4 linked regions of the Homo sapiens genome follow. The protein of the gene in region 2 purifies or fractionates together with the protein of the main gene of each other region. This does not show direct contact. Each region holds a gene or a part of one and is shown on either strand. Other genes may lie near its edges. The genes, in order: IFT172, ARL14EP, DYNC2LI1 and ARPC1A.

Region 1 (3,572 bases), on a different chromosome or scaffold from region 2:
TACACCCAGGCTGGTCGTTGGGAACAAGCCCACAAGGTAGGGATGGGTGGAGTTCATGATAAGAGAACTCTGCCTTAGTGGCATTGTGGCCTCATTCCTTGATACCTGTTTCTCCTCTTCGCTTGGCTCCCTGAAAGCTGACAAAGAGTACCAAAAAACAGTCTGAGCCACTTTGATCCCTAGCCATAGGGAAAGGAAGGGATGAAGAGAGGCCCTTGTTTCCAGACCTATCTATCATTCTGAAGGAGCAGATGGGCTTGGGAGCTGGGGAATCTGAACTACCACTCCTAATGCCTCTGGTCACATTGATGACTTTGTTCTTGCGCCTACACTTCAGAGTCCAGTGGTTACCGTGGTAATGGGAGTGTATGCCCCAGCCAAGGCATCGCAGACCTTCCCACCTTAGCAGAATATAGTTCTTCCTCTGCTTCTTATGGACTTGGAATTCCCCAACCTCACTAGTAGAGTGGCAATACCCAAACTCCTGTGATTGTTGGGAGAGTTCAGAGTTTCTGAACAAGCAGGTTTCCTTGAAGCCCTGCTTCCCTGGGGAATTGGATCTGAGGCTGCCTTGCCTCTGTGCCTCCACAGCTGGCGATGAAATGCATGAGACCAGAAGATGTGTCAGTGCTATACATCACTCAGGCCCAGGAAATGGAGAAGCAGGGCAAGTACCGTGAGGCTGAAAGGTGAGCCGTGGCCCCAGAGGAGGTGTAGAGGGAGATGAGATTTCAAGGCTGGGACGAGGGATGGGGTCTGAGGATGTGTACCCTCTGCCCAGAAGGCAGTGATAGCAGGGGTCGGGTCTAGGAGGCCCCAGATGTATCTCCTTCCCCAGGCTATATGTGACAGTACAAGAGCCTGATCTTGCCATCACCATGTACAAAAAGCACAAGTTGTATGATGACATGATCCGCCTGGTAGGGAAGCACCATCCAGATCTCCTCAGTGATACACACCTACATCTGGGCAAGGTGAGCCCTTCTCCTGGCTCTCCCTATCTCTTCCCCAACCAGGCTCCATCTCCCCATCTCTCCATCCTGACTCACCTTCCTGCAGGAGCTGGAGGCTGAAGGCCGACTACAGGAGGCTGAGTACCACTACCTCGAGGCCCAGGAATGGAAGGCAACAGTGAACATGTACCGGGCCAGTGGGCTTTGGGAAGAGGCCTACAGGGTAAGGAGTTCAGGCCACACTGAGGGATACATCCATCCTTCTTTCCCACGTTTTTCCTTTTTTTCAGAAAGGGTCTCACTCTGTCACCCAGGCTGGAGTGCAGTGGTGCAATTATGGCTCACTGCAGCCTTGACCTCCTGGGCTTAAGCACTCGATCCTCCCACCTCAACCTCCTGAGTAGCTGGGACTATAGGTGTGCACCACCACAGCTGGCTAATTTTTTAATTTTTTTGTAGAGACAAGTTTTCACCATGTTGCCCAAGCTGGTCTTGAACTCCTGGGCTCAAGCGATCCACCTGCCTTGGCCTCCCAAAGTGTTGGGATTACAGCTATGAGCCACCTTGCCCAGCCCTTCTTTCCCACTTTAAGTGACTAATTCACAATTGGTCAGAGCATCTTTGAAAATGTAGTGAAGATCAGAGTCTCTCTTGCCAGAACCATGTCCACATCTGTATACAGAAAATTTCACTTATAATTTTAAGGGTCTGTGGACCAGGTGAAGCCTATCCTTGGACCCTAAGTACTTTAACCTAAGTTAAGAAACCCTGAAATTTAGCCCTCTTCCTGTTAACTTTTTATTTTATTTTATTTTTTGAGATGGAGTTTCGCTCTGTCACCCAGGCTGAAGTGCAGTGGCACAGTCTTGGCTCACTGCAACCTCCACCTCCCGGGTTCAAGCAATTTTTCTGCCTCAGCCTCCCGAGTAGCTGGGATTACAGGCACTCACCACCGTGCCCAGCTAATTTTTGTATTTTTAGTAGAGATGGGGTTTCACTATGTTGGCCAGGCTGGTCTCGAACTCCTGACCTCAAGTTATCCTCTTGCCTCGGCCTCCCAAAATGCTGGGATTATAGGTATGAGCCACCACACCCAGCCTCTTCCTGTTCAATTTAGAACAGTTACTGGATCCTTGTCAAAGCCGAGGTCAGAGATGAGAAGGGAGAAGCTCTGTATTGCAGGATTATTGAGTGACTTTGCTTTACAGGTGGCCAGAACTCAAGGAGGGGCTAATGCCCACAAACACGTGGCCTATCTGTGGGCAAAGAGCCTGGGAGGAGAGGCTGCAGTTAGACTGCTTAATAAGCTGGGACTCCTGGAAGCTGCTGTTGACCACGCTGCAGACAATTGGTGAGGCCCCAAGCTTTCTCTCCACGGGCCCCATCCCAGCCAGAGCCACTATCTAGAGAAAGAAAATTGATGTATAACTGAAAGAAAGATCCTTGGAAGGACATGATAGAGTGGCATGAATAAATTAACTGCTTCTATTCCCTAGGGGCTCAGAACAGTGTTTAACCTTTGGCTGTTCTAAGAAGGGTGGAGAGGAAACAGATTGTAAAGCTAGGACTGCAGACTGCACTAAACCAATAACTTACTCCTGGGTAATGGAAGTGTGATTCTGTCAAATGCAGAGTGAACTGTTTTTTTTTTTGAGACAGAGTCTCACTCCGTCGCCAGGCTGGAGTGCAGTGGCACGATATCAGCTCACTGCAACCTCCACCTCCTGGTTCAAATGATTCTCCTGCCTCAGCCTCCCGAGTAGCTGGGACTACAGGCATGCACCACCACGCCCATCTAATTTTTGTATTTTTAGTAGGGATGGGGTTTCACCATGTTGGCCAGGATGGTCTTGATCTCTTGACCTCGTGATCTGCCCACCTTGGCCTCCCAAAGTGCTGAGATTACAGGCGTGAGCCACTGCGCCTGGCCGAACTTTTCTTTTTTTTTGGAAGCACCAGAGTCCGTGAAGCATTTTATTTGTAAATATGTATTACATCTCTAGAAAAAGAATCCCAGGATTTTCCCTCCTATATGTTGCTGTCTTGCTTCTTCATGGTCCATGATGCCAACTGAGGTTGTCAGTACAATAAAACCAAACTGGCAGGATGGGAGCAGATTATTCTGCCATTTTTCTTTTTTGTTTTTTTTCTGAGACAGAGTCTCGCTCTGTTGCCCAGGCTGGAGTGCAGTGGTGCAACCTTGGCTCACTGCAAGCTCCGCCTCCCAGGTTCAAGCCATTCTCCTGCCTCAGCCTCCTGAGTAGCTGGGACTACAGGTGCCCGCCACCACGCCCGGCTAATTTTTTTGTACTTTTTTAGTAGAGACAGGGTTTCACCCTGTTAGCCAGGCTGGTCTCAATCTTCTGACCTTGTGATCCACCTGCCTTGGCCTCCCAAAGTGCTGGGATTACAGGCGTGAGCCACCGCGCCCGGCATATTCTGCCATTTTTCTAGATCTCTGATTTGCACATCAAATCTGGGGCTGATCACTCTACACTTGTTTAGCCTGCCTGTGAGGTTCACAGCAATTTTCCTAGCTGTGATCATCAATTATTTCAAAATCGCCAATTTACCATACTTCAGCATCACAATTAGAAACCAGACGATGACTTTGGAGCA
Region 2 (2,882 bases):
GCAAAGACCAAGGAGGGCAGATCATGAGGTCAGGAGATCAAGACCATCCTGGCTAATATGGTGAAACCCCGTCTCTACTAAAAATACAAAAAAATAAGCTGGGCGTGGTGGCACGCGCCTGCAGTCCCCGCTACTCAGGAGGCTGAAGCAGGAGAATCACTTGAACCCAGGAGATGGAGATTGCAGCGAGCCGAGATTGAGCCACTGCACTCTAGCCTGGGCAACAGAGTAAGACTGTCTCAAAAAAAAATAAAATAAAAGCAAAGAGACGATACCATTCCCCCATCCTCCAAATAGCATCCAAGCAAATTCCAACATCAAGATGCAATCAATTTCCAAAAAATTTATTTATACTCTGTATTAACCAGTGTTTCTCTTTTCCATCCTCACTCCCTAAGGAGTCTTTTTACAATCCTAATCAACCACCCCCAAAATTTTAATACCACAGATATGGTATCTGTTTAAGTACTGTGTGTATATTCATGCTTTATACATCAAGTTTTTGTCCCCCAGAACAATCTTGACAAGGACTGCGTGGCGCTAACAATGAAAAGTTTATAGTATTAAAACTTTTTTATTTGAATAAGTGGGGAGAAGAGAAATATATTTCAGCACTTAGATATATAAATTATTTCCAAAACAGTTTAATACTCAACTAGTCGGTTCTATCAAAATCAGTTTTCCCTGAAGTAAGCACTGTTCCCAGCTACAAGCGATCCTCATTTCACATGGTACTGTGGGACCATAAAAATGGTCCTGCAATCTTAATAATCAATAGGGAAAATGATGATTGTTCCATGACCTTTAAGGTTCTGCTCAAATATTAAAAACTCTTAAGACCAGTTATAAATGTAGAAAAAAATGCAAAAATGTTTAAAAATATTTAGTACACTGTAATTTAAAACATTAGAAATAGAATTAAAGTGTTTTATTTCATTGTAAAAACAAAGTAGTTTGAATAGGGCTTGCCTTTTTTTCTGGCAAGTAACTTACCATACTGAGTAAGCATCTTTTATGTTCACGGCAAACTGCCATACTCCTTCTAAGTTTGGGTCAGCTTCCACCCTTTTATTGCTTGTGCTTTCAATGTTGTGAAATATTTCTATATTCACATTAAATATCTTTTAATGTAAAGTTTTTTTTTTTTAACCATCACTTCCTCTGGGACGTATCTGTCTTTATTGCAACCACTTTGCTTATTTGTGTTGGTAAGTTTGCCTTCACTAAGCTCCTATGAATACACAGCAGCAAGAACAACATTCCCATGGTCAGTGACTTCTTCTACAAATTCATTTATGTTTGATTAAAATTTCACTTCCAGTGTTATCATTTTTCATTGCTTTGCTGCACTTTCATCTTTGTTGACCAGTTCTTTCGAGTGTTCACTTCTATAGAATGTCAAGTAGATGACAGAGAGACAGCATAACTACATGCTCTGCTGTACGTGAACTGAATTAACAGATGCACAGGGACAAACCACTGGAAGAATTTGAAAGAAATAACATGACTGGTCACAATCATGAAGCATATCTGTTATTTACATAGCGATTTGTAGACTGAAGAGCTAGCAGAGAGGTTTGTACTTCATGTAATTACTCAGTTACAATGTGCTAACTAAAATTTTAACCTAGATTTTAACAACAACAGTTTCCTTACCAGTTTTCTTTCCTTCCTGGTAAGGAAACTGGTATTTAAACTAAATCTAGGTCACTGAAATTTGTGCCCATGGGAAACATGCAAATAGAGGACTGCCTACACCCTACTTGTTTATATTGATCCAGACAGGCTTAACGCTGACTACTGAAAAATAGCCTATCTGAATTTATATCAAATAGTGAATCTTAAAGCACCCAAGATGAAAAATTAGGGCACACTGAGATGGTTTTAAAATCTTTGTCATATGATAATCAAGCTTAAAATGTATCTTAGAGTAACAGATTTTTAGAAATAAAGACCTTTAAAGGCTCCATAGTTTGGTACCGCAGATTATCCAGCATGTTTATTATGAATTATTTCTCCTCCTTCAATTTCAATTTGCTCATACAGCCACTTGCGGTCACAGCGGCATTCAGCTCCACACTTGGTAGAACCACAGGCAGGACAAGCATAGAAACATCCTAAGCAGTCTTCATCCAGGCAGTCACAGAGGTCCATCCCACTAAAAATCAGGAGACCCTGGCTATCATAGACCTTACTCTTTGCTGGTATCACTTGTCTGTAAAATAAAACACAATGAATTATACCTCATAAATATGTTATTTTTGATTTAATTGAAAATACAGTAAAAAAAAAAAAGGAGATAAAATATTTTTAGATGAGGTCATGCCAAAATCATCTATAATTTATCAGGCTCAAGGCTTATTCTATCGTCAGCAGTAAATGAACTCCATGTGAGAAGAGGAGACCTAACTCTATAGAGTGTTGAGACAAATCTAAAAATTCTGAATACGCTTCTTGAAGTGCATAATTTTCCCTTTACTTTAAACAAACAAAAAAGAATGACAGGTTAATAGTGGTTCACTTTATTAGCTACCAACCTCTTCACTGTTTTATCAACACAGTTTTATTTTTATTATAGTATACCACCTCTATAGATTTTTATACTACAATTAATGTTTCTTGTTCTTTAATGGACTCTAGTAAATTTGGCCTAAAAATATTTAAATGACTCAATGGTAAATTTTAACAGATGGAATACATGGCATATATAGAAATGTTGACTGAACTTAGAAAAAAAATTCTGAATGATTATATTAACATTTGTTTTAGAGTCATATTCTAAACAATTTAGTTCTCCCATTCATTATGTTGACTATACAGAACTGCATTTCTATTTCAGACATGTAAAAAATAAAAACCTTGCATTCTCATAAAATGTAATT
Region 3 (3,572 bases), on a different chromosome or scaffold from region 2:
GAAGGGAACAGAGAAATATCTTCCAAAAATGACTGAAGGCTTTCCTCATCAGCTTCCTGAAACATCTACCAATCATACTGCTAAATCTTAATCTGATGGCCTGCTTCTACAGTATACGTTAGGAAATATATAAAATAAATGATAAAATATCCAGTTTGAGGACCAACACTGTGCTTCAAAAATGTACCCCTGAGCAACTAAAGCTTACAATGAATGTTCAAATAATTGTAGATTAGGTAGAACAAAAATAATTTAAATATCAGAGTAGCATAGCCAAAAAGAAGGTAAATACTATTGTAGGTTGGGTAATTATGGTAACATTTCTCCCTCAAATAGGGAAATCCAGTATTAGTCTCATATAATTTTTGGCTTATTGTTAGTTTTATATTTAAAGGCGCTCTTAAAGGTTATACTAAGGATTTGCTAAGAATTAAATATTTTGTTTGGGTCTCAAAATCGTTCCCCTTCCTTATGTCTTTTAGAGCTAACTTGCCCTATACAACTAGAATAAGCATAAATATAGTTTAAAGGTTAACATAACACTTACCTGTCAAGACACCTTAGAATAATAGTAGTCTTTCCCTGGAAATTAAAAAAGAAGGAACACTGCGTTAATGTCACTCATATGTAAAAATTGTATTATTGTTCGTAATTGTGGCCCAAAATAGATTTTTAATCAATTGAATGATAAATTACCTGGAAACTAAAAACTAGAAACTTTCGGAATTGTTCTAAAGTTTGATAAGTGGAAAAAGTTAACTGTCAACTTTCCATCACAGTGTAACTACACTGCTATTATTATAATTATAAAGTCCCACAGATGACAAATACTAGCAAATCATACCTCACTTAAGTGGTCAACTTGGCAGCTGTCTTAAATTTTTTCTCTACTCATCAATGTTAATTACTGGTTAAGCCGATGCTTAGTGTCTTTTAAAATGTTTTAATTCCAATTGTTGAAGTGGAAATAAAGAAAAAGGTAACATACAAATAAAGGACACATTGTAAATATGTTCAAAGTAAGCAATTCAGATACTGCATTAGAGTAATTTGTTTTAAGTCCAGAGGATGTACTTATTCCAAGTTTCTGTTTATTTTTATTTTATTTTATTTTATTTTTGAGACAGAGTCTCACTCTGTTGCCAAGGCTGGAGTGCAGTGGCATGATCTTGGCTCACTGCAACCTCTGCCTCCTGGGCTCAAGTGATTCTCGTGCCTCACCCTCTCAAGTAGCTGGGATTACAGGTGCACACCACCATGCCTGGGTAATTTTTGTATTTTTAGTAGAAACAAGGTTTTGCCATGTTGGCTAGGCTGGTCTTGAACTCCTGGCCTCATCTAATCTGCCCACCTCAGCCTCTCAAAGTGCTGGGATTACAGGTGTGAGCCACCATGCCCAACCCCAAGTTTCTTTTTAGGAGTAAGGAAATACAAGTTCTGGCCTAATTCCTACCACTAGTCAGGCAACTTAACTTCACAGCTTAGCCAGGGATTAGCTCAGTGGTTTATATCATTTTTAAAAAATAGTAAAATCCTTTTTTTTTTTTTTTTTTTAAAGAAAAGACCCCTTGCAAGGAAACAGATAAAAGAGAAACAGCAGGACAAGCTCCACTGGAGGAAACCTTCAGGCTCTAAAGAAAATAATTTGGAAAACTCTGGATTGCCAAAAACACAGAACACTTATTATATGTGTTTTTGTTTTTACTAAAAAAACCTATAGTTTTTGACAAAAAAGATAATTACTCCAGATTATATCTGGAATACGATCAAATTGAGTAAATTTTTTGTAATGAGATATATTAAAAAATAACTGGAATTGTACAATATAAAAATGTATATTATTGAAGGATGTTTATTGGCCAGTGTTACATCAAACTGAAAAACTAAAAACAACCTACATGTCCCCTACTGGCTAAATTAATTATGGTAAACCATATAATAGAATAATATACAGCTATTATGAATGACAATGTAGAAATATACTTACTGACATAGTAAAACATTCATAATAGATCAGCATGTCTCTGTTTTCAATTAAAAAATACTTTTCCTGCTTCCTTGAAGTACACACACACACACACACACACACATAGACAGAAACAAACACACAAATGTAGGGGGACATCACTATGTTAATAATGATTATTTCTAGCTGAAGGATTTGAAGGTAATTAAAGTTTTTAAGAAAATCAGGATTTTCTGCCAGGCATGGTGGCTCACGCCTGTAATCCCAGCACTTTGGGAGGCCGAGGCGGGTGGATCACGAGGTCAGGATATCAAGACCATCCTGGCTAACATGGCGAAACCCCAACTCTACTAAAAATACAAAAAAATTACCAGGCGTGGTCGTGGGCACCTGCAGTCCCAGCAACTTGGGAGGCTGAGGCAGGAGAATGGTGTGAACCCAGGAGGCAGAGGCTGCAGTGAGCCGAGATCACACCACTGCACTCGAACCTAGGCGACAGAGCGAGACTCTGTCTCAAAAAAAAAAAAAGAAAAAGAAAATCAGGATTTTCTAATTTTCCTACAATGAACTTGTATCATATGTAGTATGCTGTAAAAGTTCTAAATTAATAAGGGCTACATTACCCAAAAAGTAATGTACTCTGCAAGAAAGTAGAATAAGAATTGGAAGGAATTTTAAATAATATCTAGCCAATTTCCTCAAATTTTCATGGTACACTAGTATTCATTGATTTAAATCACTCCCCCTCGCCTTTTTTGTTTTTTTTTTTGAGACAGAGTCTCCCTCTGTTGCATAGGCTGGAGTGCAGTGGCACCATCTTGGCTCATGAAACCTCTGCCTCTGGGTTCAAGTGATTCTTAGGCCTCAGCCTCCGGAGTAGCTGGGATTACCAGTATGCACCACCACGTGCAGGTAACTTTTTGTATTTTTTAGTTGAGATGGGGTTTCACTATGTTGGTCAGGCTGGTCTTGAACTCCTGGCCTCAAGTGATCTTCCCACCTCAGCCTTCCAAAGTGCTGGGATTACAGTCTTGAGCCACCACGCCTGGCCTTAAATCACTTTTATTATTATTTCATATAAATGTATAGCACTATATGGTAACAATTCCAAATTAACATAAACTAATCTGGGAACTGAAATCAAGTTTTAGATTATCATTAAAATTACAATCCAAAATTTAAAAATTCATTAGTACACTCTGGTCCCCTGAGCATGTGGCTGTAGTCTTGTGGGTTTCCTAATTCAAGAAACATTGACCTAGTACAAGTTCATTTAGAGACCATCAAAATGAATCCCATCTTCCCTCCCATTGCCTCAATCGCCCCAGATGTCCAGCCCTCTCCTCTGACCCATTATCCCTGGAACTCTGAATTTCCTAACTCTGTAAACATCCCTTAATCTGGCCCAATAATCCCCTTCTGTCTTCCCTTCCTCTAAAATCCTTCCACTCTATGACTTCAGCTCCATGACTGGCAAACTCCCCAATATCTCAGCCTTTTCAGAATATTCTCTCCACATGTTGGCCTTAACTAAAATATGACTTACCCTGAACCCCTTCCTCTGCAGCCTTGTTAAACGAAGCTATTTATTCTCACTACCCTACAT
Region 4 (3,572 bases), on a different chromosome or scaffold from region 2:
CAGTTAGATTGATCCACTATTTATAACATGGTGATTACGTGGTGATTGCCAGATTTCTTCAACGTAAAGGCATCTTTTTCTCTTTGTAGTTAATAAGCAATCTGTGGGATGATAATTTGAGACTAGGAATATCCTGTACCCATGGTTTAAGAGTCCATTGACGACCCTGAACAGAATAAATTCCACATTAGTTGTTACAATGCTAGATTTATTCAGATGGTTAAGTTTTGACAATGAGATAGATTTTTTTTTTTTTTTTTGAGACAGAATCTCACTGTGTCGCCCAGGCTGGAGTGCAGTAGCGCGATGTCGGCTCACTGCAAGCTCCACCTCCCAGGTTCGCCATTCTCCTGTCTCGGCCTCCCAAGTAGCTGGGACTACAGGCGCCCGCTACCATGCCCGGCTAATTTTTTGTATTTTTAGTAGAGACGGGGTTTCACCGTGTTAGCCAGGATGGTCTGGATCTCCTGACCTCGTGACCTGCCTGCCTTGGCCTCCCAAAGAAAGTTCTGGGATTAGAGGTGTGACCACCATGCCCGGCCTTTTTTTTTTTGAGACAGAGTCTCGCTCTGTCGCCCAGGCTGGAGTGCAGTGGCATGATCTTGATTCACTGCAACCTCTGCCTCCTGGATGCAAGCAATTCTCCTGCCTCAGCCTCCCGAGTAGCTGGAACTAGAGGCGTGTGCCACCACGCCCAGCTAATTTTTGTATTTTTAGTAGAAACTGGGTTTCACCAGGTTGGCCAGGCTGGTCTTGAACTCCTGACCTTGTGATCCACCTGCCTTGGCCTCCCAAAGTGCTAGTATTACAAGCGTGAGCCACCGTGCCTGGCCAGATTATTTTTTAATGGGAGGACAATGTTTTATTTATTTCCGAACATCTTAAGATCCTCAGGCAACTTAAACATTGGTTACTTGCCTTTTCCCTATTGTATAAAATGCTTTTTGTTATTGTTCATTGCAGCTTTCTCTCCTTTGAAAACACTAAGAATAATGTCACTGCATCAGTTTTTACTAGAGCCAATCACCTGTCATGCCTGGAACAGGGATCGTACTCGTAAGTATTTTATTAACTTTGCTTTTGTATTTTGGTACCTTTGGTACATTTCATCTTTAGACACATTTAGGGCTCACATATCTCAGTATCACATGTGCAAAGAACATACATCTATTATATACATTCAGAAGGGAACTAAGTCAGTCCTTTGGTTTACAGATAGATAAACTGAGGCCCAGAGTGAAGGAAGGGCTTTGCAGAGGTTACATACCAAGTTCACATTTAGTCAGAGCACTAGGACCTAGAATAAGCTGTTTCAGAGACAAGTGGTTTGCTCCTGAGCTACTCAGAGCATTATTAACTAGTATTTACTATGTTATTCTTAGTCAGCTTGAGTTTCTAGTTTTCTAGCTCCAGCAAACTAGAAAGGGATGGAGAATGCTCTTAGAAGTAGGCACAGTTCAGCAAGCAAAGTGACAGATAATATGACAAGATGAGGCTGGGTGCAGTGGCTCCTGCCTGTAATCCCAGCACTTTGGGAGGCCAAGGCAGGCAAATATCTTGAGCTCAAGAGTTCAAGACCAACCTGAGCAACATGGGGAAACCCTGTCTCTACGAAAAAAAATAGAAAAACTGTGTGTGTGTGTACACACACACACACACACACACACACATATATATGTATTTTTTTTTTTTGAGACAGAGTCTCGCTTTGTCACAAGGCTGAGCATGGAGGCTCATGTCTGTAATCCCAGCACTTTGGGAGACCGAGGCGGGCAGATCATTTGAGGTCAGGAGTTCGAGATCAGCCTGGCCAACATGGTGAAACCCCATCTCTACTAAAAATAAAAAAAATTAACCAGGTGTGGTGGTACCTGCCTGTAATCCCAGCTACTCAGGAGGCTGTGGCAGGAAAATCGCTTGAATCCGGGAGGCAGAGGTTGCAGTGATCTGAGATTGTGCCACTGTACTCCAGCCTGGGTGACAGGGCAAGACTCTCTTTCTCAAAAAAAAAAATAATAACAATAATAATTAAATAATAAAAACACAGAAAGAGCAGGATTGGGGAGAAAAAGTCCAATTTCGCTTATTTTTCTTTTGTTGCTTGTACTTCTGCTGTTGTATCAAAGAAACCATTGCATAATCCAGGATCACAACAATGTGTGCCTATGCCTGTGTTTCCTTCTAAGAGTCTTAAAGCTTTAGTCCTTTTATGTAGGACTTTGGTCCATTTTGAGTTAATTTTTGTGTATCCTGTAAGATAGGGTTCCTTTTGTATGTAGATATCCAGTTTTCATTTTTTTCTTCTTTTTTTCTGTGTTTATTTATTTATTTATTTATTGAGACAGAGTCTTGCTCTGTCATCCAAGCTGGAGTGCAGTGGTGCAATCTCGGCTTACTGCAACCTCCGCCTCCCAGGTTCAAGTGATTATCATGTCTGAGCCTCCCAAGAAGCTGTGATTACATGCATGCGCCACCACACCTGGCTAATATTTTTTTTTTTGAGACGCAGTCTCGCTCTGTCGCCCAGGCTGGAGTGCAGTGGCACAATCTTGGCCCACTGCAAGCTCCGCCTCCGGGGTTCACACCATTCTCCTGCCTCAGCCTCCTGAGTAGCTGGGACTACAGGCACCAGCCACCATGCTCGGCTAATTTTTTTTGTATTTTTAGTAGAGACAGGGTTTCACCTGTTAGCCAGGATGGTCTCAATCTCCTGACCTCGTGATCTGCCCGCCTTGGCCTCCCAAAGTGCTGGGATTACAGGTGTAAGCCACTGCGCCCGGCCCACACCTGGCTAATTTTTGTATTTTCAGTAGAGACAGGGATGCGCTATGTCACCCAGACTGGCCTCGAACTCCTGGCCTCCAGCAATCCACCTGCCTTGGCCTCCCGAAGTGCTGGGATATACTTAGTGGGCATGAGCCACCACACCGGCCAAGATAATCGAGTTTTTCCTGCACCTTTTGTTGAAAACTATCCTCTCTGTTTTATTGCCTTGGCCCCCTTTTTGAAAATCAACTGACTGTAAAGATGAGAGTTTATTTCTGGACTCTCAATTCTATTCCATTGTTCTTTATGTTTATCCTAATTTCAGGACCAGTCTGTCTTGATTACTATAGCTTGGTGGTAAGTTTTGAAATCAAGAAGTGTAAGTTCCAACTTTGTTCTTTTCAAGATTATTTTGGTTATTGTGTCGCTTGCATTTCCATATGAATTTTAGGATCAGTTTGTTAATTTCTTTTAAGACGTCAGCTGAGATTTTGACAGAGATTACTTTGAATCTGTAGATTCACCATCTTTTTAAAGCATTTCAGGGCTGGGCGTGGTGGCTCATACCTGTAATCCCAGCACTTTGGGAGGCCAAGGCAGGCAGATCACGAGGTCAGGAGATCAAGACCATCCTGACTAACACAGTGAAACTCCATCTCTATTAAAAATACAAAAAATTAGCCCGGTGTGGTGGCGGGCGCCTGTAGTCCCAGTTACTCGGGAGGCTGAGGCAGGAGAATGGCGTGAACCTGGGAGGCGGAGCTTGCAGTGAGCCGAGATTGTGCCACCGCACTCCAGCCTTGGCA

The links.
Region 1: the proteins of ARL14EP (region 2) and IFT172 fractionate together in Homo sapiens (co-fractionation; one large-scale study listed by BioGRID). This does not show direct contact.
Region 3: the proteins of ARL14EP (region 2) and DYNC2LI1 purify together in Homo sapiens (affinity purification with mass spectrometry; one large-scale study listed by BioGRID and IntAct). This does not show direct contact.
Region 4: the proteins of ARL14EP (region 2) and ARPC1A purify together in Homo sapiens (affinity purification with mass spectrometry; one large-scale study listed by BioGRID and IntAct). This does not show direct contact.

The regions. Positions count from the first base shown.
Region 1 is NC_000002.12:27,455,243-27,458,814, reverse strand, and holds part of IFT172 (intraflagellar transport protein 172 homolog), read left to right. Parts: coding exon 1-36; intron 37-591; coding exon 592-689; intron 690-838; coding exon 839-974; intron 975-1,059; coding exon 1,060-1,176; intron 1,177-2,161; coding exon 2,162-2,304; intron 2,305-3,572. UniProt on the Homo sapiens protein: Required for the maintenance and formation of cilia. Plays an indirect role in hedgehog (Hh) signaling, cilia being required for all activity of the hedgehog pathway.
Region 2 is NC_000011.10:30,335,900-30,338,781, reverse strand, and holds the end of ARL14EP (ARL14 effector protein), read right to left. Parts: intron 2,216-2,882; coding exon 1,987-2,215; 3' UTR 559-1,986; downstream 1-558.
Region 3 is NC_000002.12:43,780,530-43,784,101, reverse strand, and holds part of DYNC2LI1 (cytoplasmic dynein 2 light intermediate chain 1), read right to left. Parts: intron 583-3,572; coding exon 548-582; intron 1-547. UniProt on the Homo sapiens protein: Acts as one of several non-catalytic accessory components of the cytoplasmic dynein 2 complex (dynein-2 complex), a motor protein complex that drives the movement of cargos along microtubules within cilia and flagella in concert with the intraflagellar transport (IFT) system, facilitating the assembly of these organelles.
Region 4 is NC_000007.14:99,332,362-99,335,933, forward strand, and holds part of ARPC1A (actin-related protein 2/3 complex subunit 1A), read left to right. Parts: intron 1-963; 5' UTR 964-992; coding exon 993-1,056; intron 1,057-3,572. UniProt on the Homo sapiens protein: Probably functions as a component of the Arp2/3 complex which is involved in regulation of actin polymerization and together with an activating nucleation-promoting factor (NPF) mediates the formation of branched actin networks.